7 linked regions of the Homo sapiens genome follow. The protein of the gene in region 3 interacts with the protein of the main gene of each other region in a pairwise test. Each region holds a gene or a part of one and is shown on either strand. Other genes may lie near its edges.

Evidence for each region.
Region 1: the proteins of CHRD (region 3) and F2R interact in a two-hybrid assay, tested with the Homo sapiens proteins (one large-scale study listed by BioGRID and IntAct).
Region 2: the proteins of CHRD (region 3) and TSPAN4 interact in binary tests that used the Homo sapiens proteins (3 or more experiments, as listed by UniProt).
Region 4: the proteins of CHRD (region 3) and NOTCH2NLA interact in binary tests that used the Homo sapiens proteins (3 or more experiments, as listed by UniProt).
Region 5: the proteins of CHRD (region 3) and TRIM42 interact in binary tests that used the Homo sapiens proteins (3 or more experiments, as listed by UniProt).
Region 6: the proteins of CHRD (region 3) and NR4A3 interact in binary tests that used the Homo sapiens proteins (3 or more experiments, as listed by UniProt).
Region 7: the proteins of CHRD (region 3) and FXR1 interact in a two-hybrid assay, tested with the Homo sapiens proteins (one large-scale study listed by BioGRID and IntAct).

The regions. Positions count from the first base shown.
Region 1 is NC_000005.10:76,725,726-76,730,140, reverse strand, and holds part of F2R (proteinase-activated receptor 1 isoform 1 precursor), read right to left. Parts: intron 1,430-4,415; exon of another isoform or gene 1,308-1,429; intron 1-1,307. UniProt on the Homo sapiens protein: High affinity receptor that binds the activated thrombin, leading to calcium release from intracellular stores.
Region 2 is NC_000011.10:845,852-849,597, reverse strand, and holds part of TSPAN4 (tetraspanin-4), read right to left. Parts: intron 2,398-3,746; 5' UTR 2,298-2,397; intron 1-2,297. UniProt on the Homo sapiens protein: Structural component of specialized membrane microdomains known as tetraspanin-enriched microdomains (TERMs), which act as platforms for receptor clustering and signaling.
Region 3 is NC_000003.12:184,386,532-184,390,946, reverse strand, and holds the end of CHRD (chordin isoform 1 precursor), read right to left. Parts: coding exon 4,192-4,415; intron 4,103-4,191; coding exon 4,009-4,102; intron 3,897-4,008; coding exon 3,840-3,896; intron 3,574-3,839; coding exon 3,470-3,573; intron 3,017-3,469; coding exon 2,914-3,016; intron 2,361-2,913; coding exon 2,206-2,360; intron 2,055-2,205; coding exon 1,952-2,054; intron 1,581-1,951; coding exon 1,525-1,580; 3' UTR 1,118-1,524; downstream 1-1,117. UniProt on the Homo sapiens protein: Dorsalizing factor. Key developmental protein that dorsalizes early vertebrate embryonic tissues by binding to ventralizing TGF-beta family bone morphogenetic proteins (BMPs) and sequestering them in latent complexes.
Region 4 is NC_000001.11:146,225,719-146,230,933, forward strand, and holds the start of NOTCH2NLA (notch homolog 2 N-terminal-like protein A), read right to left. Parts: upstream 3,304-5,215; 5' UTR 2,994-3,303; coding exon of another isoform or gene 2,991-2,993; intron 1-2,990.
Region 5 is NC_000003.12:140,697,878-140,702,086, forward strand, and holds the end of TRIM42 (tripartite motif-containing protein 42), read left to right. Parts: intron 1-2,538; coding exon of another isoform or gene 2,539-2,637; exon of another isoform or gene 2,638-2,865; intron 2,866-3,010; coding exon 3,011-3,097; 3' UTR 3,098-3,273; downstream 3,274-4,209.
Region 6 is NC_000009.12:99,859,339-99,863,753, reverse strand, and holds part of NR4A3 (nuclear receptor subfamily 4 group A member 3), read right to left. Parts: intron 135-4,415; coding exon 1-134. UniProt on the Homo sapiens protein: Transcriptional activator that binds to regulatory elements in promoter regions in a cell- and response element (target)-specific manner.
Region 7 is NC_000003.12:180,943,051-180,947,465, reverse strand, and holds part of FXR1 (RNA-binding protein FXR1), read right to left. Parts: intron 1-4,415. UniProt on the Homo sapiens protein: mRNA-binding protein that acts as a regulator of mRNAs translation and/or stability, and which is required for various processes, such as neurogenesis, muscle development and spermatogenesis.

The sequences.
Region 1 (4,415 bases), on a different chromosome or scaffold from region 3:
AATTAATTGGCTGCTAAAGCAAAAACACCAACACTCTTTGAAGGAATATAACAAAATCCAGAGTCTTTTTTCCTGTAATTTATACAAGAAAATGGTTTATTGGACTTACAGTTCCACATGGCTGGGGAGGCCTCATAATCATAGCAGAAGGTAAGGAGGAGCAAGTCACATCTTACTTGGATGGCAGCGGGCAAAGAGAGAGCTTGTGCAGGGAAACTCCTGTTTTTAAAACCATCTGATCTTGAGAGACCCATTTTACTATCATGACAACAACACAGGAAAGACCCGTCTCCATGATTCAATCATCTCCTACTGGGTCCCTCCTACAACACATGGGAATTATGGGAGCTACAAGTTGAGATTTGGGTGGGGACATAGAGCCAAATCGTTATCACCAGATCCAACCAATATACACAAAAGTGATAAACTCTGGACGTCTTGTCCCCCTTCTCTCACACTATATACAACAACCAACTTAAATGGATTAATGGTTTACACATAAGACCTGAAACTGTAAAACTACTAGCAGAAAACATAGAGGAAAAGCTTCATGACATTGTCTGGGCAGTAATTTTTTATAATGACCATAAAAGCACAGGCAATAAAAGGAGAAGTAGACAACTGGGACTGTATCAAAGTAAAAAGCTTCTGCACAGCAAAGGAAACAATCAACAGTGAAGAGAAAATTTATGAAATGAAAGCAAATATTTGCAAACCATACGTCTGATAAAGGGTTAATATCCAAAATATATAAGGAACTCCTATAACTCAACAGCAAGATAACAAATCACCTGATTTAAAAATGGACAAAGGATCTGAATAGACATTTTTCAAAAGAAGACATACAAATGGCCAACAAGTATATGAAAAAATGCTCAACATCACTAATCAGGGAAATGAACATTAAAACCACAATGAGTTATCACTTCATACCTGTTAGAATGGATATTATCAAAAAGATGACAGATAACAAGTGTTGGTGAGGATACGGGGAAAGGAAGCCCATCTATACTGATGGTGGGAATTTAAATTGGCATAGCCATTACGAAAAACAGTATGAAGGTTCCTCTAAAACTAAAAATAGAACTATTATATAATACAGCAATTCCACTGCTGGGCATACATCCAAAGGAAATAAAATTAGGATGCTGGCTGGGCACGGTGGCTCACGCCTGTAATCCCAGCACTTTGGGAGGCCAAGGTGGGTGGATCACCTGAGGTCAGGAGTTTGAGACCAGCCTGGCCAACATGGCAAAACCCTGTCTCTACTAAAATTACAAAAATTAGCCAGGCTTGGTAGCGCATACCTATAATCCCAGCTCCTCGGGAGGCTGAGGCAGGAGAATTGCTTGAACGCAGGAGGCGGAGGTTGCAGTGAGCTGAGATTGCGCCATTGCACTCCAGCCTGGCCGACAGAGCGAGACCCCATCTCAAAAAAAAAAAAAAAAAAAAAAAGACCAGGATGTCAATAGCTGCAATCTCATGTTCATTGCAGAATTATTTATAATAGCCCAGTTATGGAATCAAACTAGGTATCCACTGATGAATGAATGAATGAATAAAAAATATGATGTATATACACAGTGGAATACTATTCAGCCTTAAAAAAGAAGGAAATTCTGTCATTTGCAACAACATGGATGAGCCGAGAGGGCATAATGTTAAGTGAAATATGGCAGGCACCGAAAGACAAATATAGCATGATTTCACTTATATGTGGAATCGAAAACAGTTGAACTCATGGAAGCAGAGAAGAGAATGGTGGTTAGTAGAGGCTGGGGTTGGATGGGTGGGTAGGGTAGACTGGGGAGACATTGGTCAAAGGGTACAAAATTTCTGTTAAAAGGAATTAGTTAGAAAAATCTCTTGTATAATACGGTGACTATAGTTAATAACAATGTGTTGTATACTTGACAATTGCTAAGAGAGTAGACTTTAAGTGGTCTCACCACAAAAAATGATAAGTATTTGAGGTAATACATGTTATAAGTTTGATTTAGCCATCTCACAAGTTATGCATATTTCAAAACATTATGTTATACACTATAAATATATATAATTTTTTGTCAAATAAAAGAAAAAGGGGGCTGCCAGGTGTGGTGGCTCACACCTGTAATCTCAACACTTTGGGAAGCCCAGGTGGGAGGACAAGTTGAGCCTGGGAGATCGAGGCTACAGTGAGGTATCATCACACCATTGTACTCCAGCCTGGGCAACAGAGTGAGACTCTGTCTCTAAAAAAAAAAAAAAAAAAGTGACCCAGTCTTAAGTAAAAAGACAGTGAGCGGAAACCAACCTCAAGTTGACCCAGATGTTGGAATTAGCAGATAAGGATTTTGAAGAATGTATTACAACCATGTGCAAAAAAAAAAAAAAAGAAAAATATTTTATAGAAATGAACTGAAAATAGGAAATATCAGCAAAGAACTACCAAGTGGAAATTCTAGAAATAGAAAATAAAATACAATATGTTGGCATCTATTTCCAAAATGAAGAGCAAAGCTAGAGTAGTACCAACTCAGAGACAGCAGAGCAGAGCCTGGTAGTGTAGGGTTGAGGTCAAGCTACCTAAGCAAAGTTGGGAGAGGGTCTCCAGACAATGAAGGGGTGGCCTGGCAGGAGATCTGTCACAGGGAAGGAATGAATGTCTCCAGTGATGAATGTGAATACACACTTGTGTCTACATTGATCCTTAAGGGTAAGAACTGTTCCTGTTAATCTCTGAACCTCCAGTACCCTGTGCCCTGCATGTGGTAGGCACATATTTGTATTCTAATATTGACTCTGTTCAGGGATCACTTAACTTCTCTGAATTAAGCTCAGAATCATTAAAATGGAATTCTAATTCCTGTCTGGCCTACAAATCTGGCAACTGGAGCATCCCGTGTGAAACAGGACATACATTCACTTTGGAAACCATAACGATTAAGCAGTTTAAGAAATTACTATTATCCTTCCTCTCCCACTTCCATGTAGTGTGCTTTTATACCCAATTGTTTGCTCACTTAATTAAGTTAAAAGGAAATCTAGGTTCATCTTCCCTCCTACTTAGCAATGTTTATAGTTTTTTAGTACAATGAGGGAATGAACAAGTTGTATATTATATAGCTCTAGGGTTCAGAGCTATAAATCAAATTTTGAATTCACAATCTTTTCTGGAAGTATCACTCTCTTACCTTTGCAATGCATGTAACTTACTCTGTGTTCACCTTGCCCCAGTCACACAGAAGCCTGACCTTGGTACCAACAGACCCTGTGGATGTGAGGCTGTTCTCAAGATCACAATGAGTGTGTGGGTGCTGAAAGAAAAGAATGAATGGCTTCTGGCACTTAAACATTTTTTTTTATTTTTAATTTTTTTTGTTTGTGGTTCTGGCACTTTAATATCACAAAAACATGCATATGCAAAAATGCTGATCTAGAGGAACCAATTTTTTTTTGAGATGGAGTCTTGCTCTGTCACCCAAGCTGGAGAGCAGTGGTGCGATTTTGGCTCACTGCAACCTCTGCCTCCCCAGTTCAAGCAATCCTCCTGCCTCAGCCTCCCAAGTAGCTGGGATTACAAGCACGCACCGCCATGCCCAGCTAATTTTTTTTTTTTTTTGAGACAGAGTCTCGCTCTTTCGCCCAGGCCGGACTGCAGTGGCGCTATCTCTATCTCGGCTCACTGCTAACTCCACCTCCCGGGTTCACGCCATTCTCTTGCCTCAGCCTCCCTAGTAGCTGGGACTACAGGTGCCTGCCACCGCGCCCGGCTAATTTTTTGTATTTTTAGAAGAAATGGGGTTTCACCGTGTTAGCCAGGATGGTCTCTATCTTCTGACCTCGTGATCCACCCACCTCGGCCTCCCAAAGTGCTAGGATTACAGGTGTGAGCCACCGCGCCCGGCTGCCCAGCTAATTTTTGTATTTTTAGTAGAGATGGGGTTTCACCATGCTTGCCAGCTAGTCTCATGCTCCTGGCCTCAAGTGATCCACCCACCTCAGCCTCCCAAAGTGCTGGGATTACAGGCATAAGCCACTGCACCTGGCCAAGGAACCTTAAAATAATGCAATTCTCCTCTGCAGTTTTGGAAGCCTGGCCAGATTATGGGCTTTTGTGATGCACAGAGGGGAAAAAGTGGACATGAACATGCATACTTACATACATGAATCAAGATGACACCTGAGAGACTGACACAATGTGAAAACTAATAAATACAACTAAGCTCTTCAGATACTATCACTTAGTCTGAAAATAAAACTGTCACTAGACTTTACTCTGTATTTAGTACTTAGGCAGTAAGTACTTGTTTTAAAAAACATCTTCTCTGGGTAGGCCTCAGGCAGACGGTACTTCCGACAGGAACATTATACTTGTGGAAACATGAAATTTTTATAGGCTAGAGCTCAGGAAGAATGTATAATCCCTTGGT
Region 2 (3,746 bases), on a different chromosome or scaffold from region 3:
GCGCCTGAGGGGACTGGAGGCCGGGGCCGGGGCCTGGGGATGAAACCTGGGCAGCTCTTAGCCCGCGACCGACACCCCCAGCCCTTCCCCCCACGGTACCTCGCCCGGACTCTGGCCCCGGGCCGGGCTTGGAGACCTCCAACCACGAGAACGATACTCAAAGCACTACGCAAATGGAGGGTGACCCCGTTGCTGTCTGGTGGCAACTTGAAGCGGCTCCGCCCCGGGCGCCCTTGGGGAAGCCCTGAGTGCCGGCGGCGGGTGGGGGGCTGGGTCAGCCTGCACTGCATGGAGCAGGTGTCGTTGAGTCTTTGACTATATGGGAGGTTCCAGAACACAGAAAAGCGCAGGTGTGATTCCTGAGATACCCACCCCCCCTCCACCAGGCAGCCCCGCAGGAGGCTGGCAGCCCCAGGACAGACCCAGAGCGCTCCAGGTGGGCCCGGCTCGGCCTCCGCCCCGTGCTGTCCCCAATGCGGGAGCGGGGCCGGCTTCAAGGGCAGTCGCGCGCACCCACCCCAGCTGGCTTGATGCTCTGCTGTTCCCGTCTTGAAATTCTTGGTAATTTTTAAACAAGGGGCCCAGAATTTCATTTTGCTCCAGCCCAGGCTGGAAGTCAGCCTGTAAAAGACCCCACCCCACCCCTTGACAGGTACAGACATACCGGCCCCGTGCGCAGATGTGCCTGCACTCCTGGGTGTCATCACGCCGGATGCGCACACACCTCCCACAGCCGGAGATGGGGACAGAGGCCCCCAGCTGTGCCCTGCAGCCTACCCCACGCCTCTGAAGCCCCAGCCCCACCACAGGGCACAAGGGCCCTGCGGTGTTGGGAAGATATCAGCACGTGGCCCAGATTCCTGGCAGATGACCTGAAGCCCAGAGGTGGGGAATGAGGAAGGGCAGGAGGAAGAGGAGGGAGAGGAAGCTAAGGGAGGGGAAGGGGGTGCTCCATGGCAGGGCTGACCAGCTCTGGAGGCCTGGGTCCTCCTGGAGTGACTGATGTGGGAGGTGGCAGGTCTGGGGAGGGCTGCCGTGGAAGCCCCGGGTGCCCAGGGAGGTCCCGCAGCTCTGCCCACCCCTGACGACCTGGGCTGGGTGCCCCAAGCCTCTGCTGCCCCCCAAGGGCTCTGTAGAGAACTGCAGCCCAAGCCCCAGGGCAGCACCCCATGCCCAGGTCCTCGCTGGGGGAAGGGGACAGGGGGCCCCCAGAGAACAGGAGGCTGGCCTGGAGGTCCCCTGAAGGCCCACAAGGCCATCCTGGGGCTTCCCATGGCCCCTACCCTGTCCTTCCCCTGGGGGTTCTTTGGTGGGTCTGGGCCCCAGGAATGGGTCAGAACGGCGGCCACGCATCGGGGCCCAGCAGAGACCCCAGGAGCCCTGGGACCCCAACCCTGACAGAAACCCTCACCCGCAGCTCTGCCCAGAGAGCAGATGGCGCCCGGCCCCCTTCCCCTGGCCACGCAGGTGCAACCTGAGGGCAGACACTCAGCCGTGTGCAGCGCCTCCAGGGAGCTCACATGTGACCTGGGCAGCGCTCAGAGCACCTACTCGTGGGCCAGGCAAGGGCAGGTGCCACGGGGACCCGGGAGGACCCCAGGCTGACTGGGAGAAGCCAGACCCCACCTGCAGTCAAAAACACCACCCGAGCCACCCCAAGGAGAGCATCCGCCGCCAGGCTAGCCAGTGGCACCCCTGCCCCATCTCCCCTGCGTCCCTCTGTGGCTGGGGGTGGAAGGGGAAGTGGCAGGCAAGGCTCGAGGGTCCCAGGCGGGTGGGAGGGCGAAGGGAGAGCTGGTCTGGGTGCCTGCACTGAGCCCAGCGCCCAGGATGCAGTCCCAGTGTCCCCTAAGACCCCTCCCACCCCCTTTCCCATCTACAAAGCTCTGCACACATCGCCCAGGTGAGCAGATGAAGCCTATTCAAGAAGAAATCAAAAACCTCACAAGGCCACCGAGGGTCAGGAGGAGCGGGGTTGGGGGGGGGTGGGGGCGGGGAGCTGGGCTTGCTTCTGTTGCCAAGTTCAAGATTCACACTGGGTTGCCCAGACGCAGTCAGGGGCCCGGGCAAGGCACAGTGTCAGAGCTCAGTCGGGGAGGGTCCTTCAACACCCCAGTCGGGGTGTTCTGGGACCCTGTCTCCAAAGTCCAGCCCCTCCCCACGGGAGCTCCAATTAGATACTCAGGTGTGGTGTCAAAGTGTCCGCTGGCAAGGCCCCTGGGCTGGCAAAGTGAGACCCAGAGGCAAGCCCACTGCTGCCCACCACAACCATCCAGCCCAGCCGGGCCCTGACATACCTGGGCTGGCCACAGGAAAGAGACCAGGCGGTGCTCAGGGTCCCTGAAGGCTGACCAGTGGGCAGGCAGGTGGTGGGTGCGACCAAGGAAGCCCCAAGCTCTGCAAAAGGAAAGATGGGCAGAGTGGAGCCCTGGCTTCCACCCTCAGCTGTACAGCCAGAGATGCTCCCAGAGAAGGGCAGGGAACCCCCACCTGGGGCCAGGTCCCTACAGGGCAGAGGGGCAGTCGGGGTGGGCAGGGGATACACCACCAGACTCGGAGAAGAAGACCACTGAGGAGTAGCCCCAACCAGGAAAGCTCTGAATCAATGACTGAGTCACCAAATTCTGCTCCTTCAGGGCTCTGAGACAGCCAGGCAGGGACACAGACTCACACTCACAGAGACACGGTGTGCAGAGAACACATGTTCAAAGACGTACTCACAGCACGGACATGCAGAGACACAGGCCAAGACACATGCTTGCACCCACACAGACACGCAGCAGTGCCTCCTCCCTGGGGTCCTGGACCCCTGGACCAGCCTGCTGTCTGCTTCCTACCAGGCACAAGCACCCCTACCCCACCCTGCCTTGGGCTCTGAGCAGACACCCAGGCTCAGGAAGGGGCCTCACGCCCTCCCTATGGAGCTGCCAGCAATGACCCGCAAGGCCCTCCTCCACCATGGGTGCCAGGCTGGGGAGTCTGTCCTCCTCCTGGCACTCAGGGATTTCTGGCCAGGGAGAGGCCCCAAACCCACCTGGGCAGCCAAACGCAGTGCCCACTACTCCCTGCCCTGCTGGCTCAACCCCGCAACACCTCGCCCCTCAGAACTAGCTCTCTGGAGTGAGGTAACTGTCCTTCCAGTAGCCCAAGGGCAGGAGGGAACCATAGAGCCTCCACCCCAACCCTGGCTGAGCGAGAGCCCCAAAAGAGACATCCAGAGCTCTGCAGGTTGGAAAAGCCCTGGGGACTGAGCTGCAAGGAGATCTCAGACACCCACAAGGCCAGACGGAGGTCCAACCCAAAGAGGGGCCTGCCCACATGATAAAGCAGCCTGTCTGCAGCAGCCTGGGTGCCATGCCCGTGGAGCAGCCTCTCTGAGCCCCAGCAGCAGGGCAGCAGCTCAGTCCTGGCCCAGCCCAGACCTCGGGGTCTCCACACAGCTCAGCAGGGGCAGCTCAGGACAGACAGCAGAGCCAAGCCCACACACCCTGGCCCCCCAGGCCCACGGGCTCTGAGGCAGCTTTGAGGAGGTAGGGAGGCCCGCCAACACAAACAGCCTATGCTGTGGGCTTCCTGGCTGCCTCAGCCCCTGCGGGGCCCCAGTGCCCGTCCCAAGCCCTCACCCTGGGGGGTCCCAAGCAAGCTGGCACTCCCTCATGCACACAGAGGAGCAGGGACTGGGGGCTACATACAGAGTCTGGGTGGGACCAGGCCCCTCCCACCCAAACCTGAGCCCTGGAGGCTGG
Region 3 (4,415 bases):
GTGAGGGGGATATCATGTGTTTTATAAAAGGGAAATGGGGGTTTGTGAAAGTTAAATAACTCAGCTAGTTAACAGCAGAACTGGAACTCGATGCTTCAATGGGCTAAGACAATAACTTCTTAACCACATACAGCATGCCTAACACTCCATAAGCAAGCTATGATTTCCCTTTCCCCTGCCCTACCAGATCATAAAATCCCAGATTCATTTGACTCCACATTGTTTATATGAAAGATGGATCTGCAGCTACATACATTTGTTAGATTTCTGTTCTGATACCCTCATTTCCTAGAGCTTGTCAAAATGCCTGGGTCTTGATGGTAGGAATGAGGGAGGGGAGAGAGAAGAGGGTAACAGGGCAGGAGGGTCTTGTCTTATTCTCTACATGATTTGGTCTCAAGGTAAGCACAGCCAAAAGCTGGATCAGAGCTGATTCCAATCCACTCTGACCCCAGTTTGCCCCAGAACTGGTCCAGAACACGAGTTTCCAGGAAAAAAACAGAAAAGTGTTTGCCTCACTTTAGACAAAGAAGGTAGAGGCTGGGCTGGGTGTGGTGGCTCATGCCTGTAATCCCAACACTTTGGAAGGCCAAGGCAGGAGGATCACTTGAGGCCAGGAGTTCAAGACCAGCCTGGGCAACATAGCAAGACCCCATTGCTGTGAACGAAGGAGAAGGGAAGGGAAGGGAGAGGGAAGGGAGAGTGAAGGGAAGGGGAGGGGAGGGGAGGGGAGGGGAGGGGAGGGGAGGGGAGGGAAAGAAAGGGAAGGGAAGGGAAGGAGGGAGAGAGGGGCTGGTGACACCTTTGATTCTCTCTCTGGAGCAACTTCAAACATGAAGTCAGCAAACAGGCCAGCGATGTGGGAAACTAAACTTGAGTCAAAATCCTGCTTCTACTTCCCTAAATTCTTGAGTCTCTAGACCATCTCAAGAACCATCCCCAGCCCCTCTGCGGAACCCAGGCATGCCAGCCAACTGCCACGCTATCCTCTGCCTCTCCAGGTCTCTTTCAGCTCCCCAAGTGTCAGAGCTCCTCTCTCTCACCTCCTACTCTCTGCCCCTTCTCCACCAGGCCCCACTCAGGTTCCTGGCCACAAAGAGCCAACCTCATGCCCAAAGACTGAAAAAGAAATGTTTTAATAAATACAAAACTCTCCAATAATGACTCTGCTCAGCTCAGGGGCAGCAGGAGTGGAGTGTCGGGGGCCCTTGGTGCTGAGTGAAGATAAATTAAAAATCCCAACAAGCCAGTGACATTATGTACAGGAGGAAAGGGGTGGGGCTTCCAGGACAGAGGCCGAGGGTGGCAGGGCAGGACTTGGAGTGGCTGTGACCTCGGTCTGGCCCAGCTGCCTCTCCCCCTTGTGGAGCTGTGGTTCCCAGAGGTAGTGGGGGTGGGAGTAGAGGCAGGACAGAGGAGCAAAGGCACTGGGCTTCCCACAGGAGAATGCAAGAAGGTCCTCGATGCCACCCCTTCCCCAGCTCAGGCCCCATCCTCTTGGTCACTTGGCCCTCTGGCTGCTCCCTAAGAGCCTTCGGCTTCTTTCTCCAGCTCTGGATCAGTTCTGGTCTCTGGGGCTGCTGGAGACAGAAGGGAGGGAATGTTGGAGGAGGGGAGAGGGAGTGGAGAGGCACAGAGAGGCATAGAGGGCAGGGCAAAGCATCCCTGCCTTGGTCCCAGAAAGGCCAGTATTTTCTAAACAGGTCAGTGCACACAGCTGGGTGACCTTCATCTCGTTGCTTAATTTCTCTGAGCTTCAGAAATCTCATTTGTAAAGAAAAGGTCATAAATAACAATTCCACCAGGTTGCTGTGAGGGTGGATTGGAATGGCACTTGTGAGGCAGGCTGCACTGTTCCTGCACACAGTGAGTGCTCCCTTCCCTGATCAGGAGTCCCACAGGCAGGTGAGCCCTCCACTCACAGCTGCTGACCCTGGACTCCCTCACTTACGCCGCCGGTGGGCCGTGCAGCGGGAACAGCATCGACTCTCCTTCCCCGAGCCACAGGACAGTGGCAGTGAACAGTCATCCCGCTCACAGTGAGGCACCCCTGCCTGGTACAAGACAGAGCAGACACTGAGTGTCCCCCAGAGGCACTGGGACACAGTGACCTTCAGCTTCTTCAGGGACCTCCCTGGGAAGGTCTCCCTACTCCAGACCAGGCTCCCAGTACCCACCTCACACAAGCCTCTGCTCCCCACTTACCCCACATCTGCAGGTGATACAGCTCATCTCTCCAAAAGGGGGCACTGAGGGGTGCCAGCTCTGACTCTCTGGGAACCACTGCCCAGCAAAACGGCAGCCCCGGGGCCCATCAGCCTGCATGGGGTCCCCCAGCTGGGGGTGGGCCCCCGACCCCACTGTTGAGAGGGAAAGAGAAAGGATCAGCCCAGGAGGACCAACAAGGTTTTATGAGTATTCTCTTTGAATACCCAGCACGTTGCAGTTTCTGGCACTTAGTAGGTGATAAATTTGGATGGGTGGGTGGGCAGATGAATGGATGGATGAAGGGACGGATGGATGGATGGATGGATGGATGGATGGATGGATGGATGGATGCATCAATGGGTGGATGGGTGGATGGATGGAGGGATGGATGGATGCATGGATGGATGCATCAATGGGTGGATGGTTGTATGGGTGGATAGATAGATGAATGGACGGATGGATGGATGGATGGATGGATGGATGGATGGATGGATGGATGGACGGATGGATGGAGCAGGAACCAGAACCCATCATACCCCACTAGTATATCACATTCTTTCCACTGCATTTAGAGTCCTGGCTCCAGGCTAGGCACAGAGCAGTGCTCAGTATAATGCTCAATTAACTGAGCACCCTTCCCCTCACCCAGGACAAAGCCTGCCTCAACCCAAAGGTGAGGCCTCAGTGCTCAGCCACCTCTCTCACCTGGACACTGTTTGCAGCAGTCGGTGGGGTTGACACGCACAGGCTGGGCACAGGCCAGCCGGGGACACTGCACCTTCTCACAGTGCACCTCTCCAGTGCCCCCCTGTAGGGATCCATTGAGCAAGGAGTGTCAGGCAGGGGGCACATAAGCCTCCTGCCCACTCCCTCTCCTATTCCACACCTCAAATGCAGTCTCTCTGTGGCCTTTTACTCAGAGGCCCGGACTGGCTTTATAGACCTAAACTCAGCTCCTCATCAGAACCCTGCAAGGTAGGTGCCATCATATCTGCTTACAGGAGAGGAAAGTGAGGCTCAGGGACAGAAGGTGCCTAGGGTCACTGGCACTAGTTAGCTGGCAGAGCCAGAATCCACACCCAGGTCAGCCCTGTTCATTTTCCCACAGGAAGCCGACTCTCAGAGCGCAAGGGCCTTTTCTCATATCGTTTTGATTCTTGAGCCCTCCTCACCAAGGACGGGCCTTCCTCACCTGGCAGCCCCTCCCCATCTCTGCAGACCCCGCTGGGTTATGGCACCAGAGAAGATTGGGTGGCCATACCTTGCAGGTGCAGACAGCACACTTAATTAAGCCAAAGGGGGGCACAACGGGGTGCCACCGCGTACCCGCTGCCCGCCAGCTCCGGTCACCATCAAAATAGCAGCCTGGTGGGGAACAGGGCCCAGCAGCCATTAGTATGAGCTCATCAGCTGGGCCCACAACCAAGGCTTGAGCCTCAGGCCACCCCCACACGAGCCTAAGCCAAGGGCCCACCTGGGGGCCAGTAACACTAATGAGTCCTGTCAGGCATCACTTGGAATCTGTGCCCCTCAGGCCACCCCCTATATACTCTCCCCTTCTTGTCCCCCTCCTGGTTCAACCTAATGGCTCCTCTGGGGCCTCCCACCCTGCACGCACCCTTCCAGCTCACCCTCTCCTGGGTCCCGGCTCCTTGGCAGCCCTGGCAAGTCTCTGACATCTTGTTTCTCTGTGGAGCCAAAGAAATGGTGAAAGCAGAGAGTGACCACCCTCATTCCCTCCCCAAAGGACCTGTCCGCACTGGGCCAACTCCTCCCTCCACTCCCCTGCGGGGAACTCACCAGGGCAAACAGGGCAGCACTGGTCGGGAGCCTGCACCGGGTGTGGGCAGCTGGGCGGTGGGCACACCACCGGGTCACAGATCACCGTTCGTCTCTGCAGAGAGGAGCAGAGGCATTGACGGGAGTGTCCAGGCCCCTTGCTCCAGATCCCAGGACCCAGTGTGCCCTTCCAGGACCTCCTACCTGGCAGGTGCAGAGTGAGCAGAGCGGGTCGTAGTTGGGCGCCCAGCGAGCCCCGTGGGGGCGCTGCTGCCCCTCGAAGAAGCATGTGTTGGGGTCTCGGGGCCGCCCAGGACCACCAGGTTTGGCGGGCGCTAGGGCCGGGAGACCAGGCACCACAGGCGGCGCAGCAGAGGCTGTATCCGGAGCCCCCAGCGCCCGCACCCCCTCGGCCCCGGCCGCCTCCA
Region 4 (5,215 bases), on a different chromosome or scaffold from region 3:
AACTTACCTTATCAGAATCCCTGGGTGCTGAGTCCAAGATCCACCCCAACAGATTTTGATGTAGCCAGGACACAGAGTTTTTTTCTACCATAATGGGAGAGGTAGGGAGGAGGATCACTAGGAATGGCAACACAGAGTGGGAACTAGATCAATGCAAATTTTGTGGGCAAAATAGAATTTCTGTGGGTGTGATATTTTTAAAATGTATTGTAAGGCTGCTCTGAACCATCCAAGCATATCCCACTGAATTTAAACATTCTCTAAAGGTCCTGAAGTCAGCAACTACAATCCAGGTGAACCAAAAGTTGCTTCTCTATGTCATAGAAGCCTACAGGAGAGGCAGTAGGGTGGGAATGGAGCAGAGAGATCCCAAGAAGTTATGGGTAAATATTTTTTAAATCTAAACATTCAGAAAAATAAGAGAGACTAGGAATCACTCTCCTCCTCCTCTCCACCACACCAAAAAAAAAGGAATAATAAGAAAGTGAAAGGAAAAATAGTTTTAGGTTAAATTTCATCACCATCTGAAAGAAAATTACTCCGATTTTGTTTAAGCAAGAGAAGAATTCAGCTGAGAAATTATCTAGCAGGCAGCAAAATCAGGGAGTCACTTCCCATTGCAAAGCAAAAGAAAACAAGGAGCAAGAGTATGGTCCTGGATAGCTGTTTAGACAATCAGACATACTGCTAACATCTCCTTGCCTTAGAAACTCCGTGATGTTTAAATTAACAATTGGCCACAAGCCAAACACAGGAACACTCAAAAGTTTAGAAGGGTGTGCTGTAATTGGTACCTTAGCAAAACACAATAATAAATTAGGAGGATTCAAGAAGCCTTCACTGTAGACTCTAAGAAGATTTAAGATTTGTACCAAGAAACAGGCTTCTAAATCTCTTCTACTGCATTAGTTTAGCATCTAAAGAACACCTGTCTAAAAATCAAAATATCTAAATCCTATCCTTTGAGTCAACTTGACTAACACTCAACTTGACTACCTAAAAGCTAGCTAATAATCGCAGCACCTCAGCAGAGCAGAGGTGGAGGGCATAGTTTTACGCACTGAGATCCTATAATAAAAGAAGCCCTATGTGTCAGAGTAATCCCATTTCTGACATATTATTTAATACTTAATTTTTCAAATCACTTTACAATCATATTTATTATTCCCTACAATTCTCTAAAGCAGGTTATTCCTTTAGTCCTGCTTCATAGGTGAGGAGACTACATATCATGAAGATTAAGTTATTTACCAAAACAAGTTAATGATAGACCAAGGATTATTACCCTCAGACTGTCTCATTGATTATACTCCTCTCTATCCTAAAGCTACACTTAAAGCTTTCACTCAAAGAAAAAGGAAAAGCAAAAACACCATCATATATGCTCTTTATTAAATGCTTCAGAAACAACAGCTCTGCTTCATCACTACAAAGCCTCCTGGTCCACTTCTGAAATTCTTAGTGACCTAGACGTGTACGAAATTTGAACTTTCCAAGAAGTATCTAGTTGGTGCTGAACAACCCAGTACTATTTTCGGGTGATAAATAACCTTGTTCTCTTTTTAAACATCTGCGATTGACATGTCGACTGACTGTTAACAATGAACAAAGACCATATTTTTCTGAAGCTCATCATCTTCCTAACCTTTTCTTTGAAAACAGATGTAGTTCATGTACTAGTTTTTTGGTGAAGGTAAAAATCTTTATTCAGATTAGGCTCAGAAAAAGAAGGGGCTGCTTTCCGTTCAACAAATATGCACAAGACACCATCCCACTGGGAGCATCAATCTCAGAAGCAGTAAAACACAGCCTCGGCCCTCAAAGGACTTTCTGAACACCTTTGGAGTGTCATCCGTTTAATATACATTATTTTAATTAATCCTATTAGCTGGATAATTTCATTCCCATTTTATTGGTGAGTTCATATAGCAGAGCTGGATTTGAATCCAGGATTACAGAGCAGGGCTCCAAAGCCCAAGTTATTTCCACTAAAGGGTCTGAAGAAATGTAGAATCTAAAAGTGTGGGTGGGATGGGGAAGATATGATTTGATTCCCTTTCCTTGGTCCAACCGTGTTAGAAACATCCAACCACAAAGAAGCTTTCTAAGGAAGCCCTTTGAATTGACGTATCCACTTTTTCTCACCCGCCCGTGCCCCACCCCCAGCCATGCCAAAGGAGCAGCAAATGCTGCTGCCAGGTTGGAGGAATTGGTGATCGTCACACCACATTCCTGGGTCTGGACACAGCCTGAAACAGCAGCAGAGCTCCGCGCCTCAGAAAGAATAACAGCAGTTGAGATTTTTAAATCATGTGCCTCAGCATGCAGCCACACCAGTTGCCCTACTTCTCCTGCCTCCACCTTTCAAAGACGCGAGCAGCACACCCGGCTCCTCCGGACTTTCGGTGGGGTTGGAGTGTCAAAACTCAGGCGCGCCGCAAAACCCCGTCCCCATCCAAACCAAGCCCACACACCCGGCCCATGTGCCGCCCCCTGGCAAAGGCGAGGCTGGCTGCGAAGGTGCAGGCCGTTTGGCTTGGCGGCCCTGCCCCCGCTCTCCACGCCAGAATCTGGCATTCCTTCGCTCAGCCCCTCCGAGGCCCGCCGTCGGCTCTCGCTCGACCCCAGGAAACGCGGAACCTGAAGGGCAAAACTGCCCACCTCCCTGCACCCTGGCACTACGAAAAAGGAGTTTCTGAGACTTGCTGCCGGCCTCCCTCCTGCCGAGGAGGCGTGTGAGGGGTCCCGGGCCGCGGGGAGCAGAGGCGGCGGGGAACCCCGGCGGTTGGCGGGGAACCCCGGCGGTTGGCGGGGCACCACGGGAGGGGCCCCCGGCGATGTCCAAACTCTCGGGAACCCAGCGAGTGGCCTCGCTCCGCGCCGGCGGCCGAGCCTGGCCTTCCCACACAGAGAAGGACCGAGGGGGAGAAGGGTCGCCCCAGGTGGCAGCCCCGGGCGCCGCGGACAGCGCCCCTCAGCCCGATACTCACCATGCGCGGGGGTCGCGCAGCACAGCCAGAGCGCCAGCAGCGCCCACAGCAGAGCGGGGCGCAGGGCGGGTATCTTCTCGGTCGCCTCCTCCGCCGCCGCCGCCGCGGCCGCCTGGGCAGATCCACATGGGGAGGGGGTCCCGATAGAGGAGCCCCACTCTCTCCTCCCCTCCTCCTGCTTCAAAGGCTCAGGCCCTGGCGCTACGCTCCGAAGCCCAGCGCAAATGCCTCGACTCCCCGCGCCCCGAGTCCGCCGCTCCTCGGCCGCCGCCTCAGCCGCCGCCCGAAGTTTGGCTGAAACTTTCTCGGGTGTGCAGCGAAGCAGCCTCGTGTGTCCTTCCGCCTCAGCCGCCTCCTCCCACCGCAAGCCCCGCCCCACTGTCGCCGCGGCCTCGGCCCCGCCGCCTTGGGCACCCAGGGGTTTCCCGCAGGAAGAAGCGCCGGCCCGAGCTCCGCGCGGAGGGATCTACTACGAGTCACTGGCCCCGTCCGCATCCTTCTCCAGCGGCCCCGGGGGCCGCCGCGCCTTAACTCGATCAGGGCTGCAGCGGCTCGCTGGCTTGACCAGTGCAGAAGGGGCGTGGAGGTGAGCGGGGTGGGGTAGGACTCTGAACTTCAAGCACTGGAGTTTGCCGGGATCGTGAACTTGCAGGGAGAGGCGGTCCTCATCCAGTGAGGTCTGTATCGCCACCTACACCCACACATCCACACACTGCTTTGCTAGCTAGAGGAATGCTCTGGAGTAGGACCAGTGCTGTCAAAGAAGGAAAGTGGGCCAAGGCGCCAAAGTCCATTAAAAAGGAATAGAGCCATCACGGAGTGGTGCTGCCCCATTCATTCATTCATTTGTTCATCCGTGTAGCGAATATTTCTTAAGTGCCTTACTTTGCGTAGCTGTGTGCTTGGCAGTGGGATGATACCAAAGATGCACAAGCAACTTTGAGTACCAAGACTTTGCCGCTGTGGGCTGGGGGATTCAGGGAAGGCTTTCCCAGAGGAGCTGGGATGAAAGCAGGATCTTGAAAGGTCAGTAAAATTTGTATAAGACAAGGAGACCAGCTAAGCTAAGGATATTCGTTGTAACACTGTAATAGCAAAACCTTGAAAACAACATAAATGCCCACCCTTAGAGGAATGGATGAATAATGTATGGTATATTTATAAAATGAAATGCAACACAGTAATTGAAAAGACTATAGCTATTTATGTCAATAGGGATAAATCTTAAAAACTAAATGACAGTGAAAATAATCGCAGAGGGAGACAAAGTATACCATTTATGTATATTTTTTTCAAGACAATACTACACATTATCTGTGGATGCATATATATAGATATAGATATTAAGAGACTATAACCAGAATAGTAGTTACTTCCAGGGCAGGAGAGTAGGGGGTGTGATCAAACCTGGGTACAAGTGGGCTTCTAAGAAAAGAGCTAAAAGTAAGAACAACAACAATAGTTGTATGGACATATCATTCCGGGAAAGAGCCCTCGTGAAAGCAAAGGTACAGTCAGAAGAGTAAGTAAATGAGTTCTGTCTCTGTTAGCAGTGAGAGGAGTCAAGGACGGAAAGGGGGTTGGGACCAAATTATGCAGCCTTGAATGGCAAGCTGAAAGGGTGGGGAGGCAGCTACCTCTTAGGTCACATAAAACTATTGAAAGTTTTTGAACAGAGTTGAGATTGATGGAAAGGAAGATTGCTCTGATAATTCTGTAGAAAATTGATTGTTGGGAGCAAGAGGTGAACTGGAGCCCCAGGACCAGTCAAGAGTTGGTGAACAGTCCAGGCACAAATTTAAGAAGACCTGAACTAATAAGGTAGATTTCAGAAGGAATGAATCTGAGACAATGTTAAAGAAACAGAAAAAAAAAATGGAGGTGTGACTAATTGGATGTGGGAGTTTACAATCCTGTTGGGATGAGAAATCCTACCCATAGAACCTCTCCCTGACTCCTATAGGATAAAATTCAAACTTCTAAACATGGTACATACAAGGCCTTTTCGTCATTGGGCCCCATCTCCTGTCCTCCCTGCCCCTGTTGTGAACTTCACACAATAACAGTATTACTTGAGATTCCCCCAAACATATCTTGCTGTTTCTGTCCCTGTATCTTTTGTTCCTTTGGCTTGGAATGACTCCTGTAGTCCCCTTCCCTCCTCCTCTTAATGAACTTCTAATCATAATTCATCCTTCAGTCCAAAGAAGGCTTTGCCGACACCA
Region 5 (4,209 bases), about 44 Mb from region 3:
TTTCACCGTGTTAGCCAGTATGGTCTCTATCTCCTGACCTCGTGATCTGCCGGCCTCAGCCTCCCAAAGTGCTGGGATTACAGGCATGAGCCACCGCGCCTGGCCAGAAATGCCACTTTTATATTCAGTTTCCATATATTTAGGGGTATGTCTCTGAGGACTCTATTACATGCCATGGGTCTATATTTCTGCTCTTATATCAATACCATACTTGTTTTATTATTTTTGAACCTCAGCTTTCTGCCATGTCTTTATGAACTGCTACGGTAAGTATGCCCATTATCCTTCTTTCTTTTTCAGAAATTATTTAGCTAATCATAGAAATTTATTTCTTCATATACATTTTGGAGTAACTTGAATTCTTAGAAAACATTCAGATAGAATTTATTCAGAAGGCATTGTGTTTCTAAATTAATTTGGAAACAAATGGTATTTTTGTAATATGTTTGAACATTTACTCAAACCATAGTCTATGTTCTTTACTGGGGTGTTTAAGTTTTCCTACATAGGTGCACATATTCCTGGTTAAACTAGATCATTTAGAGATCTAACGTACAGCATGAGGGCTACAGTTAATAATATTGTATTGATAGAAAATTTGTTAAGATTTTAGGTGTTCTTTTCACACACACAAAAAAAGATAACTGTGAGATGGTGGGTATGCTAATTTGCCTGCCTGTAGTAATTATTTTACTTTGTATACATATGTCAAAACATCATGTTGCATACCATAAATAAATAAACCAAATAGTTTACAGACTGTTGATATTATGAAAGTTATTTTATTATATTTTCTAATAGATTACTGGTTTAGAATAAAGACTATTTCTGTTTGTAGGGTAATCTTGATTCCAGCAATGTCAGAAACTCTCCTTACTATTCTGAGACCCAATCTGCTATTTCTGCTTGTTTTCCCAGGCATATGATCCTATCTCCTATAAAGAATGATGGTTTTATCTGTTTACTTACAATTCTCACAATTCTATTTCTTTTTTCTTTCCTTATGGCTTTGGCCAGAACCTTGAGTCATACATAAAATTGTGGCAGTGTTAGTAGATATCCTTGTCTTATTCCTGATATTAACGTTTCTCCATTGAGTTATTTTTTATTTAGTTTTTATGGTATATAATCCTTATTAAGTTAAGGAAAATTACTTCTAGGTTTCTGAGAAATAGGTACTTATTAAATTTTTTGCATTATTTGAGGTAATTACATGATTTTTCTCCTTCAGGCCATTATTAATGAAGTGAATTACATTGACTGATTTTTCTGATACTAAATTCCACTTCCATTCATGGAATAAATCCTGTGTGTTCATGATGTATTACTTTTTAATACAGTTTACTTCAGTTAGCTCGTATTTTATTTTGGTTTATTGCATCTATAATTATAAGGGAATTGGGCTCAATTTTTTGCTTATATTGTTTTTATCTGGTTCTGGAATCAATATTTCACAACCTTCATAAAAAGAGCTGGGAAACTTTTTGCTCTTCTATTTTCTAGAATAACTCTTAAGAGTTTGGTAGAATTCATCTGGAAAGCAATATGAGCCTGGGGCATTTGGGGCAGGGAAGAGATGTCAACTATCATTTCAATTTCTTTAATATTCCAAGTTTTGTTTTTCTGTTTCTTCTGTCCTTCTTTCTACCTGATTCCCTTTTTTCATAGACACACCTCAATCCTCACTGCTCCATTCACATATCACATACAGTCTTTATCTTTGAAGATTCTGACTATATTTTAAAGCAAAAACTCAATCTCCTATTTATGAGTTAATTCCTAACACCTCGTAACACCGTTCCATCTTCCTCATGCCCTCTGATAACTCTGTGTGTATCTTGGACATTATTTATACTACTTTTATCAGGGTTATCTCTATGCATTATTTCCATTTCTACTCAGCAATGGATAATCTAATATCATGTATATAATATGACCTTTGCCTTGCATGCAGCCCTGTCTTCTCTAAAACCAAAAATTTTGTAAAAGTAGAGAGCATAATGCTAATAAGGGTCTGGCTTCTTTGTTTTTGCCCTTTCCCTTTATATACAAATATAGAAGGTTAAAAGCTTTGTACATAGAGACTTTGTGCCCTGTATAAACATTCCTCTTCACCATACAAACCCCACCCCCATTCTATCTCAAGTCCTCATTCACCTCAGCAGAGCCCATTGATCCAGTGGACTGTCTTTCATCCCTGGGTCTCGACCTCACTCCATAAATATTTATTTGGGGGGAAGGAATGGGAATGCTGCCAGACCACAGTAGTGAAGAAACCCAGTATCTTCAAGGTAAGGCATGGAGGGCAACATCTAAGCTAACTTGGTGAGATTTCTAGGAGGGTTCTTCTTACCCCTCGTGCCCAGTACAGTCTTTCTTTTTCAGGTAGCACTGGCCATTCACTGTAATTAAAGATAGTATGAAGTGTTTCTGCTAGCATCAAAGGAAAACAACTGGCAGATTTACAAATTATATTATATTATAGTTCTATTCACTGTTCATATACTTCTCTAAGAATCTTCTCTTTTCCATAACTAGTGTTGGGACCACAGAGATGAAAGACTATCATTTCCCCCACACCCCAATCAAGGTGCTCATGGTCTGGTAAGAAAGTCAAATGCATTAGCTGAAACTTAACAACTGATAAAAGCTGTGACAGAACCAAGTTCTAATGGCTGAGGAAGGATACAGAGGATCCTCTATGGTGAAGCTCACCTGCGGTCCAGCCCCATCACTGTCATCAGCACTTAGTCACATGAGCTACCCTAAAGGGAAGTAGGATCTGGCCTATGGAATCACAATCCCAGGACACTATAGCTGTGGGGCTTTGGGAAACCTTCCTGGTCCTTCTGAGCCTCAGCTTCTTCATCTATAAAGTGGCACCAACAGCCACTGTGGTGGTCGTGAGGAGTTAATGAAATGATGTGTGTAGTGTCTGACATGCAGAAGGGCCCAGGCTACTGGGAGCTGTTGTCTATTGGGTGTCATGACTCTTCGCTTCTGATTGCAGGTGGTAACACCAGATGGACATGGGAAGAACCGAGCTAAGTGGGGCCTGCTGAAGAATATCCAGTCTGCCCTCCAGAAGCACTTCTGAGCCCCTTCAGAGCAGGAAACAACCTCAGACTCATCACAAAGTAGACATATACACACACATATATGTATGTATATTTTTCTCACCACATTCTTCAAGGAGGTTGTAGACAAATGTTTCCATGACCTCTCAGCTTTCCAACAGGAATCTTGTAAGAGCTAATAAAAGGAAATACCTGACATGGCTTGCTGTTTGTTCAATGACAACTATTTGTTATGATGACAGTAATAAGCAAGGCACTCAGCAAGTCTGTATATTTCCAGCTGCTCAGGTCTAGTCCTAGGCTCAGAATTCTGTGGTGTTTTGTAGGAGCAACACCCAGCTTCTAGGTGGTAAAAAGAACACTGTATTTTGCAGTCGGGACCCCGTAGGTGTGCATTCTAATGCTGGCCTAACTAGCTTTGAATGCTTGGGCAAGTCGCTGATTGCCACGGAATTCATTACCTCACCATGTAGTCTATTTTAAGGAGCCAACATTAAAATGTTTTTCCTAATTATTGAACTTGAATTTGCCTTTTCACAACTTTCAGCCCATGGTCTGAGGTCTACCTCTAAGCCATAAAGAATGAGAGCCCTCCCTCTTCTCCTTCTGGACATAGCAAAGGAAGAACGGTAGAATGCCTGGTTAGAGGATCCTCTATGGTCATTTGAAGCAAGGCATGGAAGAATGACAAAATCATGTATCAGCTCCAACCTCACTGAACTTAGCTTGGCCTTTCAGACAATATGAAGTCCCTAGAATTTCTTGTCATACAAGGCCCTATCTGCCAGAAATGACCCTCTACTGAACCCCACGCCATTTCTTCCCAGAAAGCACCACCTGTCTTTCAAGACTCAGCTCAACCACTTTCCCCAGTGATCCTCCAAATTATGATGACAACATCTTTCTCCCCTGCATCCCCACTAAGCACAGGGACCACCTGTCCCACCCCTATTTCCCATAAAGACACCCATTCCAGCCCTGTGATACTTAGGACTCATTTGTCCTGAGTCTTAGAGCAGAGATGGTGTCTCATTCATCTTCTATCCTCAGTGCTTGGGACAGTGAGGCACACATTACATGTTAGTACCAGGAGGGACACACCACAGCTGAAAGGCAGACACATAGAATGACT
Region 6 (4,415 bases), on a different chromosome or scaffold from region 3:
TTCTACCAGGGCACCCAGGACCTTGGACTCGGTGGGCTCCAGAGCCTGTCCCTTACTCTGGTGGTCTTTTAAACTGCTTGTGATCTTGTTGCATAGCTCTTCGACTCTCTTTGGTTCTTTTAACCCATGTCTTTCTGCAGAGGGATAGAGAAGGGCAAGAAGTTTAGGAGGCAAATACATCTTAAGACACTTTGAATCCCTAATTGAGGTCTGTGTCTCATTCTGCCAGTTTGGATAGCTTCTTTGCAATCAAAGTGCCCTCCCTGTTAGAGATAGCTCATGGCCTTTGGTATGAAGCAACACCAAGGTTTGAATCCCAGTCCCAACACTTACTTGCTGTGTGCCCTAGAGTAAGTCTCTTTACTTCTGAGCACCCATTTCCTTATGAGATGAAGAAAATGATCATACCCAATTCAGGGTTTCTGGGATGGCCAGCTTAGGTAAGTAACACAAGGGAAGCACAGTTCCTGGCACACAGCCACATGGAATGAATGGCAGGGTGGTTATTATTTTGCATACATTATCCTACTAAGCTCTCACAAAGCCTTGTCAGTAGGCAACTATTTTTCAGAGTGACATAGAAACACATCCAGGCAAATGAATTAATGTTTCTATCTTGACAGACTCATTTAAGGGAGGTGGGGAGGCTGTAACTTCCATTTGCTAATGCAAGGGCTGCTCGAAAAGACCCAACACAGCAAAGTGCATTCCTGTGTTTTCATGCTAACCAGCACTGAGAAGAATTCAGCTTTTCTTTTCCTTGTTTTGTTCCCCCCCACTTGAAACCCCTGTTGACCTACACCTGGCACTCTGTACAAAATACACATGTCCTCCTGCTGTGGAGATGGAAAAGCCAAAGAGAAGGGGAGGAAGCCCAGAAGGATGTGGTGCAGGCATGTTATAATGTATTAAGACACAAATACCAGTATCTTATATTTTACAAAACAATATATAAAATGATCTCCATGTTAAATACTATGATCTATCTTATGTATAAGGTTAAATGAATTTCCCAAAGTCACTCAGCTGCTAAAAGCTAGGATTAGAACCCAGTTTTCTGAGGCAAATACTGGTCTCTTGTTCCAAAGCAATGAGAAGGGAGCCTGACATCCACAACAAATCACTATGCTTTTCCTCAACATTTAGACTTCAGAGCCTCATTTCTCTCTCTTTTTTTTTTTTTTTTTTTTTTTTTTTTTTTTTTGAGACAGAGTCTTACTCTGTTGCCTAGGCTGGGGTGCAGTGGTGCGATCTTGGCTCACTGCTCCCCCACTTCCTCCACCCCGATTCAAGCGATTCTCCTGCCTCACCCTCCCGAGTAGCTGAGACTACAGGTGTGTACCACCATGCCCAGCTAATTTTTTGTATTTTCAGTAGAGATGGGGTTTCACCATATTGGCCAGGATGGTCTCGAACTCCTGACCTCAAGTAATCCTCCCATCTTGGCCTCCCAAAGTGTTGGGATTACAGGCATGAGCCACTGTGCCTGGCCTCAGAGCCTCATTTCTAAAGGAAGAGCTTGGCCTCTGTTATCTCGAAATTTTCTTCTCTCAGTACATTTACATGTAAAATCATAATTCTTGAGAGATGGAAGACATCCTTCTAATGGGAAATCAAGCAATAGTTTCTAATTTTTACAAAATTAATTTTTTTTTTTTTTGAGTCATGGTCTTGCTCTCTTGCCTGGGCTGCAGTGCAGTGGTGCAGTCATGGTTCACTGTAGCCTGGAACTCCTGGGCTTAAGTGATCCTCCTGCCTCAGCCTCCCAAGTAGCTAGGTCTATAGGCATGCACCACCATACCTGGTTGATTTTTAAATTATTTTTTGTAGAGGCAGGGCCTCACTATGTTGCCCAGGCTGGTCTTGAACTCTTGGGCTCAAGTGATCCTCCTGCCTCAGTTTCCCAAAGCACTGAAATTACAGGCATGAGCTACCGTGCCTGGCTCTAAATTAATTTTTTAAGTTGGGGGCATTTTTGTTAGAAAAGTTATTTCCTTGAAGCAAAAGCCAATAAGAAAAATGAAGAACTATCCAGACACTTTTTTCTTGTCCCAAATAAGAGGCCTGGGAACCAGAAAATTTGCATTATCCTCAGTTTGGCTAGTTGTGTATGATTTGGGGAAGTTCCTCCCACTTTGGGGCCCTGTAAAAGGAGACGGTTGAACTTCATTATCTGTAAGGTCCCAAAGCTCTGATGTGTCCTCCTTCCTTCCTTCCCTCCCTCCCTTCCTTCCTTCCTTCCTTGACAGAGTCTCACTCTGTCACTCAGGCTATGCAGTGGTGAAATCTCAGCTCACTGCAACATTCCCGGTTTCAAAAGATCCTCCTGCCTCAGCATCCCAAGTAGCTGGGATTACAAGTGTGTGCCACCACACCTGGCTAATTTTTGTATTTTTAGTAGAGACAGGGTTTCACTATATCAGCCAGGCTGGCCTCAAACTCCTGGCCTCAAGTGAGCCACCCACCTTGGCCTCCCAAAGTGCTGGGCTTACAGGCATGCACCACTGCACCTGGCCTGATATGTTATAATGATATTAAAATACAACCATGAAGATTGCCAGCGGGATCTCCATGGACTGTAAGTTGCAGGCATCTTGTCTCAATGCAATATGCTATAAAGAGATGGGCACTGGCCCTGGAGTTAGACAGACCTAGGTTCTAGTTCTGGTTCTGTCATTTACTAGCTGGGTGACCTAATTTCTCTAAGGCTCAATGTCTTCACAGGAAAATCGGAATTATTGAGTGGCAGATACACAGCCTTTGCTGTTATTATTCCTGTGTGTCTTCAATGTTATGTAATAAATTAAAAGAAAAAGTACAATGATAATAAAACCCAACTCCATGGATTATTGTGGCTCAATTAAGATAATGTTATGGAAAAGTGGTCTGTCAGCTGTAGAGTGCTATACACATGGAATAATCAGAACCAAAGACAATGCTTGCCAGTGGGCAAGTGGCTGGTAACTACAAGGTCTAACAAAAAGCAATTCGTGGCCTAATTTCCAAGCTTTGCAGTGCATCATTTTGCTTTCCCTGAGAAACTATTAGCTAATCAGCCCAGGTGCGGACCTGTCTCCTACGGCTTATCATTACTAAATACACAGGCTCCATGTTTCAGTCTCAGAAGAGACTGTTGTGAATTTTAAGAGAATGAATTTTAAGAGAATCCTGCATGCAGTGGTGTTCTGCCTAAAGTTTTATTTTCTCCCCAAAACAAAAGAACAGGCTGTAAATTTGGCAGTAAATTTCAAGAGCTATAAATCGTTCATAGCCTCTGACCAAGTAATCCCACTCTTGGGAATTTATCCAAAGGAAACATTTAACAGAAGAATAAAACTGTATACATGGAGACATTTGGTTCAGCATTATCTATTACCAAGACAAAACAAAACAAAAGCAAACAAACAAAAAACTGGAAAAAGGCAAAGGGCTGAAGAATAGGGGAACTGTTAAGTAAATAATGGTATATGGAAGGGAAGATTCTGAAGACATCAAACAGAACAAATGTGAAGGCCATGAAGCAAAATTAAAAAAAAAAACGTTTACAACATTAAATAAAGAGTAGAATATTAAATACTAAAGCTGTGATTCCATCTATGCAAAAATTATTTCTTCATATAGAGAAGGGTGAAAGAAAATATAAACGTGAAAATACCTATGGGGTTTTGGGATAAATTTTCCTTCCTTTTAAAATGTCCAGGTTGTGCTCTTTGTATAATAATGTTAAAATAGAACGAGATGGATTTCGTCCTTTGTGAAGCCCTTGAATGCTATAACATGATCAAACATCACCTTGCTGATACTAAATTGAATTAATAATGAAAAATATTCAATTATATTCATAACCTAGGGAGAGACGCCTTTCTCAGAATAAATACCAGTCCATTGATTTAAGCTTTCCCTTCCTTTCAGTGTCTCATGTCTTACATAACATTCAAGATCTCATATTCATCATCAGGATACAGGAACTGAGTAATATGTTGGCTGGATTTGGGGAGGGAGCTGATTGTGGAACCTTGTAACCAGACTTTCTCATGGCCAAACTCACAGAAGGTACTGCAGAATTTTCCCTGCTCTCCAACCAGTTGCGACTGCTCAATAACTATGGCAACCATTATTTATTCAGTGAATTCAAGTGGAGATCGATACCTCCTGCCAGCTGGATCAACTCTAGGCCTGGAATTCCTTGAGGAATTCAGAGACAGTCCTGTTAGAAGCCAAAGGCACCTCAACCCTCTTTGTTGTTTTGAACAGCCACTGGATTTGTAGCTTCTTTACTTTTTCAAAAGGGCTGAGATAATATTCAGTCTCCATGCAAACTACTGCCAGCAGCCAGGAAGATTTTCAAATCACTAGGGAGTCACTAAGTGTCTGGGTCCTTCCCTAGTAATTTGAAATCCCTTAAAACCTAATCA
Region 7 (4,415 bases), 3.4 Mb from region 3:
AGATCCCGTGCTAAAGAACCTAAATCAAATGTACTAAAATTGTTTAACTGAACAAAAAAATTACACACATTCAGTCCATCTAGCAGAATACATTAAGTATCTTACAAAATTCCTATCCAGGCCGGACGCAGTGGCTCACACCTGTAATCCCAGCACTTTGGGAGGCCAAGGTGGGTGGATAACCTGAGGTCAGGAGTTCGAGACAAGGCTGACCAACACGGTAAACCCTGTCTCTACTAAAATATAAAAATTAGCCGGGCATGGTGGCAGGTGCCTGTAATCTCATCTACTCGGAGGGCTGAGGCAGGAGAATCATGTCCAGAGGGTGGAGGATGCAGTGAGCAGAGATCACACCATTGCACTCCAGCCTAGGCACCTAGAGCAAAACTCCATCTCAAAAAAAACAAAATAAAAACTATCCACAAAAAAACAAGTCATATTCTTTATATCTATAAATATCAGTTTTATTAACGTAATAGGTCACAGAAGCTTTCACTTGGGATTAGAGTTATTTCTTATGACACAGCAGAGCTTCTTTAACGTATTATATTTTCAGTATAGAGAAAGGTAGAAAAGGGGGGCTGAGAAGAAACTAAAAACCAATAAAAACCAAGATTGACTGTCCTTGCAGAGATCATCAGGGAAACCTATCAGTGGCTGTTAACAGCCATCTGGGAGATAAACACAAACAACTAAAAACAAAGACTTTTAGAAAGCCTGAAGCTTCTATCAGGATGATTTGAGAGTAATCTTGGAAGTGGTAGGAATACTGGAACTGGAAATGAATAAACCAAAACCTACTAATGAACTTTATCGTATACCATGATTAGAAAAAAGCTATGAGAAAAAGCAGGAAGTCCAATATACCAATCAGGGTCCGTTAAACTCAATTTTAGCTTTTCCATTTCTTTTATAAACAGATCTAACTATTCAAAGGGATCAATATCTCATGACTTATATTCTTCCTTACGACATATTCCAAAAAACAAGAAAGTTTACTTCTCTAAGACTAGAACAGAACTCACCCTTATTCTGTAATTATTATATGTATCCACTGGGCCCTTTTATAAATGTAAGGTAGAATCTAGTGATCTTATTTTTCCTATATCTTGAAACACTTTACAATTTCATCAACATTCATCAGTTATTCTCAGCTATGCTTTAAATAAAGACTAAAATGGAACAGAGGAATGATGGCATCACCTAGAGGATACAACAGTGAAATAAACTGTTAATGTTCATACAGTTTCCTTACTGCATAGCCTGAGGTATCACATCTCTTTCAAAACAGTTCAAAAAGACCAAAGACACCATCCTTGTAGTCTGCTTTTAGCTACCGTTGACCAGTTGATAATTATGAATTTTTTTCACTCATAATTGCGAAGAGAAGAAAAATTTACAGAGGAAGGCCTTTCTAATTATTAGAGATATCAGACAACAGATGCAAAGAGTACTGATAAATGTGAAATTATCTTACAAAGCAAAACCTCAGACTATGAAGTCTGAGATGGTGACATCTTAGATGAATGTTCTCAATGTATTTCTCAAACGATGTATTTCTCAAACGATGTATTTCTCAAACATTGTTCTCAAACAATGTATTTCTAAGGAGAAGAGGGAAAGATGATGTGTATTCTCATCCAGTTAATGACTCAACTGAGACTCCATCATGCAAAATCCTCCAACAAGAACCCAGATCATCCTGGTTTGCTAAAAGGGTATATGACAGTATTCTTCCATCTTTTAAGATGTTTGTGGTCAGGCACGGTGGCTTACACCTATAATCCCAAAACTTTGGGGAGCCAAAGCAGGTCGACTGCTTGAGAGCTCAGGAGTTCAAGACCACCCTGGACAACATGATGAAACCCCATCTCTATCAAAAATACAAAAGAAATTAGCCAGGTGTCGTAGCGTGCACCTGTGGTGCCACCTACATGGAAGGCTAGGGTGGAAGGATTGCTGGAGCCTGGGAAGTTGAGACTGCAGTGAGCCAAGATTGTACCACTACACTCAACCCTGGGTGACAGAACGAGACCCTGTCCAGGGGGAAAAAAAAGGTAAAATAAAAATTGAAGATAAAATTTTAAGAAATGTTTGTGTGCCAAAATGTACTTCGTAAGTGGAAATGTCAAAAGCAGATGTGTATACAAAGGTAACTCGAAAAAGAAAGATAATGAAATGCAAAAATATTCAATAGATTAGTCAATCCAACTGACTAAATGTGCTAAAATTACAGCACAGAGATGGCTATCCCTTCTTCAATAGAATGAGATGTCATTAAAAGTTCCAAAGTATTCAAGGACTGCATTCTGATGATCCAACTGTAAGAATAACCAGAATAAGCTAGAATTTATTAGAGATATATTTTAAATCTGCTATCAATATTTATAAGATTGGTATGTTCTAGGTTCATGTATAACAGTGAGCAGTTAGTTACATTTAGAGAACTGCATTCATTGTAGATACATATATCATCAAAACCTGGAAAATATGAAAAAGTTAGATTTGCTATGTTTAAACCCTCACTAAAATGTCTAATAAGGCCATGCGTGGTGGGGCTCACGCCCGTAATCCGAGTACTCTGGGAGGCTGAGGTGGGCAGATCACTTTGGCTCCAGAGTTCGAGACCAGCCTGGACAACATGGTGAAACACCATCACTATGCAAAATACAAAAGTTAGCCAGGCATGGTGGCATGTGCCTGTAATCTCAGCTACTTGGGGGCCTGGGGTAGGGTGGAAGGATCTCTTGAGCCCAGGAAGTCAAGGCTGCAGTGAGTTGTGTTTGCTTCACTATACTCCAGCATGGAGTCAATAATGGCCTTTAAAAAAGTCTAATAATGGGGGGCACAGTGGCTCATGCCTGTAATCCCAGCACTTTTGGAGGCTGAGGCAGGAGGACTGCTTGAGCCCAGGAGTTTGAGACCAACCTGGACAACACAGGAAGATTTCGTCTCTATAAAAAAAATTTTTTTTTAATTAGCCAGGTGTGGTTGGTGCATGCCTCTAGTCCCAGCTACTTGGGAGGCTGAGGAAGGAGGATCACTTGAGACTGGGAGGTCAAGGCTGCAGTGAGCCATGATCATGCCACTATACTCTAAACTGGGTGACAGAGCGAGACCCTGTCTCAAAAAAAAAAAAGGTCCAATAACGACCTTACTACCCTTTCATTCTTTCTGCTACAAAATTATTTGGTAAACGATCAGTGATGACTGTTTTCCCAAGTATACTGAGGGTTACAAAAAGAATATTCTAGGCCGGGCGCGGTGGCTCACGCCTGTAATCCCAGCACTTTGGGAGGCCGAGGTGGGTGGATCACCTGAGGTCAGGAGTTCGAGACCAGCCTCAACATGGAGAAACCCTGTCTCTACTAAAAATACAAAATTAGCCAGGCGTGGTGGTGCATGCCTGTAATCCCAGCTACTCGGGAGGCTGAGGTAGGAGAATTGCTTGAACCTGGGAGGCGGAGGCTGCGGTGAGCTGAGATCGCGCCATTGCCCTCCAGCCTAGGCAACAAGAGCGAAACTGCATCTCAAAAAAAAAAAGAATATCCTAACAACCAAAAGAAGGTGCCCATTCGAGTAACTATCTCAGAGAGGCAGTTCGAATATCTCTTGTTAATGTGGGTAAATCAAGCCTCATTTGCTGAAAATGTTATGTCTTAAAACTACCTAACCCCCTTATTCTATTTTCACCAAAGCATAATCATTCATGAATCTGGCTTTCTAAATAAACCATCTCAACTGCCTGGAGGCTTTTCTCACTGAACGATGAAATGCTGAACTCCATTTTAAACTTAATATCCACTTCTGTAAGCTTCATAACTTCACCCCTGAAAGACCAAGTTACTCTCATAAAGTGACTAAACCTAAATTCCTAAGCCTGAATCAAAAACACTACAAATTTGGCTGCACAGCCCACACCTGTAATCCCAGCACTCTGGGAGGCTGAGGCGGGTGGATCACCTGAGGTCAGGAGTTTGAGACCAACCTGGCCAACATGGCAAAACCCCGTCTCTACTAAAAGTACAAAAATTAGCTGGGCATGGTGGTGGGCGGGCGCCCGTAATCCCAGCTACTTGGGAGGTTGAGGCAGGAGAATCGCCTGAACCTGGGAGGTGAGCCAAGATCGCACCACTGCCCTCCAGCCTGGATGACAGAGCAAGACTCCTTCTTAAAAAAAAAAAAAAAAAAAAAAAAAAAGCCGGGCACAGTGGCTCACACCTGTAATCTCAGCACTTCGGGATGCCAAGGCGGGTGGATCACCTGAGGTCAGGAGTTTGAGACCAGCCTGACCAATATGGTGAAACCCCGTCTCTACTAAAAATACGAAAATTAGCCGGGCATGGTGGCGAGTGCCTGTAATCCCAGCTACTCAGGAGGCTGAGGCAGGAGAATCACTTTAACCTAGGAGGCAG